Linked DNA regions of Homo sapiens: region 1 is linked to region 2. The links come from fine-mapping of genetic effects on plasma protein levels. Region 2 holds a variant in brackets. A gene starts in the other region. All regions are shown on their reverse strands. Region 1 holds the start of FUCA1 (alpha-L-fucosidase 1). Region 2 overlaps MAN2B2 (mannosidase alpha class 2B member 2).

The links. PIP is the posterior inclusion probability: the model's chance that the variant is causal. The UK Biobank Pharma Proteomics Project read protein levels with antibody pairs (Olink). The fine-mapping took linkage between variants from a reference panel, not from the people measured, so its PIPs are less certain.
Region 1: it holds the start of FUCA1, and the variant in region 2 is fine-mapped to the plasma level of the FUCA1 protein (UK Biobank, PIP above 0.99).

Annotation. Positions count from the first base shown.
Region 1 is chr1:23,866,991-23,869,999 of GRCh38, reverse strand. It overlaps FUCA1 (alpha-L-fucosidase 1), which reads left to right and starts at 1,710. Exons shown (of 8, transcript NM_000147.5): 1 at 1,710-2,102. The coding sequence starts at 1,714. RefSeq lists a silencer at 2,079-2,298.
Region 2 is chr4:6,597,091-6,599,590 of GRCh38, reverse strand. MAN2B2 (mannosidase alpha class 2B member 2) reads right to left here. Exons shown (of 19, transcript NM_015274.3): 8 at 2,288-2,478; 9 at 1,237-1,393. Among named protein-coding and RNA genes, the nearest start is that of MAN2B2, 23 kb to the right of the region's middle. The variant G/T (reference allele first, on the strand shown) is at 1,390.

The DNA.
Region 1 (3,009 bases), not on the chromosome of region 2:
GACTTCTCATGAGGTGCAAGAAAGAAGCAGCATGAACAAAGGCATAGATTTTGCACCTGGAGACACGTATTCTAGTCCCACCTCTGACTCAAACTAGCTGCATGATCTTGGGCAGCCCCCCAGCCCTCTCTGGGCTTCAGTTCCCTCCTCGGTACAATGGGAAGGGTAGGGAAGAGGATGGTGCCTAGGATCTTCAAAGTCCCAACTCTGATGTGCTGCCATTCTCTCACTGGCATGTGGGAACTGAGTGTGCTACGTGGAGTCATGAGACTTCTTCTTCCTTTTCTTTTTCTTTTTTTTTTTTTTTTTTTTTGAGACCGAGTCTCACTCTGTCGCCCAGGCTGGAGTGCAGTGGTGCGATCTCGGCTCACTGTAACCTCCACCTCCCGAGTTCAAGCAATTCTCCTGCCTCAGCCTCCTGAGTAGCTGGGATTACAGGCGCACCCCATGCCCGGCTAATTTTTGTATTTTTAGTAGAGATGGGGTTTCACCATGTTGGCCAGGCTGGTCTCAAACTCCCGACCTCAGGTGATCTGCCCACCTCGGCCTCCCAAAGTGCTGGGATTACAGGCGTGAGCCACCTTGTCTGTTCAGAGACTTCTGACTTCCGTATTTCCCTCGCTAATGGCCTCACCTCCCGTTTGAGTATGTGCAGCATGTGCAAATTGCAGAGGAACTGGGGAACTTCCCTGCCAGGCAATCCTGGGTCCTCTTGGCTCTCCACTTCCTCCTTCCTTCCTTCCTTCCTCCTTCCTTCCTTCCTTCCTTCCTTTCTTTCTTCCTTGGTCTGGCTCTGTCGCCCAGGGGCTGGAGTGCAGTGGCGGTATCTCGGTACAAACTAAGCTATTTGAAATGCCTCGGAATTCCCAAAGAAAGCTCAGTAAATACCAGACAGATGAAACGGTCCTGCCCGCTCTCCCTCTTTCAGTACCCAGTTTTCTCTTTCCTCTCCTTTCATAACGTTTCTTCCCATCATCCCTCTACCTCCTTATTTCTGTCAGGGCTGTTAGATACCCTTCCGGTCTGTTATCTCCTCCTCCAGCCTTGTGCTACAGGACAACTCAAAAGCCCCCTATGGCTCCCAAGTGATCACTAAATAAAACTCGTGATCTCACTTCAGCCTACCCCTGCAGGATTGCTGCGGCAAAATGGACTACTCCCAGAGGCGTGATCACGGTTCGGTTCACTGCAGCCCAGACTTCCCGGGCTCAAGCGATCCCGAACCTCCCACCTCAGCCTCTCGAGTAGCTGGGACTCCAGACGTGCACCACTACGCCAGGCTCATTTTGTTTATTTTTTATAGAGACAGGCTAGTCTCCAACTTGTGGGCTCAGAGCGATCCTCCCGCCTCGACTTCCGAAAGTGTTAGGATTACAGGCGTGAGCCACTGCGTCCGGCTCAATGGACTCCTTCTTAAATGTGAGTTCTCCGCACACACTGGGCCTTGCTCACCTCCACGATTTAACCTCGCAGTTAAGTCCCTTTTCAAGGTTTTTATTCGTCCTTCAGCGAAGCGCTGTCAACGCCTCCCTGCGTCTTTCCCTTCTTGAGCACCAGAGGGCGCTCCTCCGACCCGAGGAGGAAGCGACTCGGGCCAACCTGTCCAGGTTGTCCCACCCCTTTTTCCTTCCGGGCCAATCGTTAGTCAGAGTGGGCGGAGCCGCCCGCGGGCACCTGCGCGTTAAGAGTGGGCCGCGTCGCTGAGGGGTAGCGATGCGGGCTCCGGGGATGAGGTCGCGGCCGGCGGGTCCCGCGCTGTTGCTGCTGCTGCTCTTCCTCGGAGCGGCCGAGTCGGTGCGTCGGGCCCAGCCTCCGCGCCGCTACACCCCAGACTGGCCGAGCCTGGATTCTCGGCCGCTGCCGGCCTGGTTCGACGAAGCCAAGTTCGGGGTGTTCATCCACTGGGGCGTGTTCTCGGTGCCCGCCTGGGGCAGCGAGTGGTTCTGGTGGCACTGGCAGGGCGAGGGGCGGCCGCAGTACCAGCGCTTCATGCGCGACAACTACCCGCCCGGCTTCAGCTACGCCGACTTCGGACCGCAGTTCACTGCGCGCTTCTTCCACCCGGAGGAGTGGGCCGACCTCTTCCAGGCCGCGGGCGCCAAGTGAGTGTGGTCCCGGGGAGCGGCGCCCCTTCCCGGCTCGGGCGGCAAACAGGAGGTGGGGCTGGGCGGCCAGCTGGGGCGCGCAGCTGCCGGTCGCCCCCATGACCCCGGGGCCCGCGTGTGGCCTCCTGCGGCCACAGGAGTGAGCCTGGCACACCTGATGAGGAGGAGGAGGTGCGTTTGACTGGGGACTGATAAATGAAGGTTCAGGGAGATGGCAGGCTGGGAAGCCCTGGGTATCTGCACCTGTGCACCGAGAGGGCTGAGTTAGGCCATACCTGATGTCCCTTTCAGATTGACAGCACTATCAGGACTCCAGGGTTTCAAATCAGTGGTGTGGAGCCTGGTTCTAATTCAACTGTGAACCTGGACATGTCACTTCAGCCTCCCTGCAGCCTCTTCTATGGTTGTAGAAAGGGGTTATATAAGGATACAACCCTTTGAGCCCTAATGTCTCTAAGAGGGAAAGAGAGGGGAGTTCTGGTGTGCAGTGTATTTGGGCAACAGTACAGATAGTCATTCGTTTGCTCCTCTCAATCCCTTTTACGTAGGAAGTGTCCAGGAAGGGTCTGACTCTCTCTGAGAACTGTTGGAACTTGGGGGTGGCTGGTTCAGAGAACAGAGTAGAGAGCGCTGGGGTGGGGATAAGGGGAGACCACGACCCATGAAGTTGTCAAGGCAGGGGCTTGTCCTGAAGGAGTGAGCCTTGAGAGCCCTGTATTGACAGATGTTAAGTCAGGGAGTGGTTACTATCAGCTTCTAGAAAGATTCATTCGGCTGCTGGGAGAGAAGTGGGTTGGAGAAGAGTAAAAATGGAGGCGGGGAGGTTTCCCCAGCCCCTGGCTTAGAGCAGTCTTCCATCCTTACCTTGGTTCCTCAGCCATCTTCCGGGTTTTCGTTTCTCTTG
Region 2 (2,500 bases):
CCTGGGTTCACGCCATTCTCCTGCCTCAGCCCCTGAGTAGCTGGGACTACAGGCGCCCGCCACCACACCCGGCTCATTTTTTTGGTATTTTTAGTAGAGACAGGTTTTCACCGTGTTAGCCAGGATGGTCTCGATCTCCTGACCTCGTAATCCACCCGCCTCGGCCTCCCAAAGTGCTGGGATTACAGGTGTGAGCCACCATGCCTGGCCAGATAGCAGCATTTTGACAGACCAAGGTGGGAGGACCACTTGAGCCCAGGAGTTAGGAGACCATCCTGGCAACATGGTGAGACCCTGTCTCTCCAAAAAAAATAAAAATAAAACAATAAGCCAGGTGTGGTAGTGCATGCCTGTAGTCCCAGCTACTTGGGAGGCTGAGGCAGGAGGATCGCTCAAGCCCAGGAGTCTAAGGCAGCAGTGACCTATGACTGGCACCACTGCACTCCAGCCTAGGTGACACAGCGAGACCCTGTCTCAAAAAACAAAAAACAAGAAGGAAGTGCAAGATGACCAGGTGCAGGCTGTGGGTGGGACCTGGCGGCCTATGCACACAAAAGTCTCATGCGGGCGGAGGGCCGCCAACCTGTCTTCATTTGTCCAGGATCTTCCCAGTTTGGAAACCCCTCAGTCCCAGGCACACTGGCATGTGATCAGTCACTCTACACGTGGGAAAACTCACAGTCAAAGAGGCTGGTCCCACGGCTGCCCTGCTGTGATGTCAGCCAAGTGGAGTTCGGGAGGGAGTGCCAGGAGCCAGGAAGGGACCGGGCCCCTGAGGACACCGGCGTACTCTCTGCCAAGGCTGGGCAGCACCGTGTTCAGGTTCAATCCCTGCTCTGCTCCTTCCTACCCGAGTGGCCCTGGGCTAGCATATAACTTGAGTCCGTTTCCTCGGCTGTAAAATGAGGACAGTAACCATTCCTATTTTGTACAGATTTTGTGAGGCATTAAATTCAATACTGCATGAAGGGTATTTTGAGCTTAGTAAATGCTCAAAACATGTTAGCTGCTATTTCTGGCTCTTCTTGTAACATCAGCAACCCTTCCTCATTGCACGGATGAGCAAACAGAGGCTGGGAGGACTGAAGCCACCTGTCCGAGCTCTCACCATGGGGAAGGGCGATATGGGTGATGTGGACTCAGAGTCTGAAGCTGGGGTCGTTGAGCCCCTCCCCTGACCTCCTCAGGCTCTCCCTTCATAAAGGGGCCACAGCCTCCCTGCAGGGCCCTGCTCACCGGAGCTGGCCGCCATGGGTGCCTGGGGCTGGAGCTCATCTAGGACGATGGAGGCCATCAGCTTGCGCATGCCCAGCATCCCCGAGGCCAGGTGCGTTGCGTACATGTCTCTCACCTTGGGGGACTCAGTCCCAGTGATGGCATCATGGTGCT[G/T]GACCTGCAGCAACCCCCAGAGGGGAGGAAGAACAGGATCAGGACCTGACTCTGCAAAGCACCTACAAGGCACCTACTAGGCGCTGGCTCTCATTCTGGCTTGCCAGGTGCCAGTGGAGAAGGGGGCAGTCCCCGCCATTTTACAGAAGGAGGAACTGAGGCCAAGAGAAGCTGAGGAGCTCGCCCAACTTTTCCTGCCCTTGTGGGAACTCATTGTCCCCCATCTCTGGACCCCCTGCTCTGAAGGACCCTGAAGTCACCTCATTTCTCCCACAACATAATGACATGTTCTGCCAGCAGCTCCTTTTGGGGAACTGTTACAGTGTCATGGCTGGTGTGACCCTTTTTTGGATAGGTGACTGAGGACAAGTTACAGGCTGTCTTGGGTCTGTTTTCCCATCAGTACAGTAGGGGATGGGTGGAGACGGAAACTCATGAACTGGCTATTCAGCAGCCACTGCACCAAGCAGGCTGTGCACACCAGCACATCCAATTGCCCCACCGTCCTCCTGGGCAAGCTCGTTGTTCTCATTGTACAGGAGGGAATTAGGTCTTGGGTGGGTGTGGGAATCATGTGCCTGACATCACACAGCTGAGCCGAGATATGGATGCAGGCAGGGCTGTCGGACACAAATGCCACTCCACCTTGTCCTTTATCCCTTTTGCTAAACTGCTACAAAGCTTAATGAGGCCACCAGCTGGATGGATCAGGCTGTGGTCTCAGCCTTGGCCTGGGTTCACCATGCACTGGCCTTGTAACCAAAGGGAACCTCAGTTTCCCCTCTGTAAAGTGGGGCCTCTAGTGCCCCAGGGCTGGAAGGATTGGCTAGGACAAGGGAGGGGAGGTGCGCAGCATGGGAGGTTCCAATCCTGCCACTGTGGCTAAATGTGGTGTTACCTCGGAGACGGCCCAGCGAAGCTGCTGGAGCTGCTGCAGGGCCCAGGTGGGGTCCAGATGCCCACGGGGGGCCGGCCACAGGTAGCGTGTGAACATGGACTCCCCGGCATACAACAAGGCGCTGGCTCGCCGGGCCAGCCCCTTCAGTGAGCTGCGGGACGTGTAGAAGCCCGTCCAGGCCTGGAATGGTTCTGGGAGACAAGGGAAGATGGT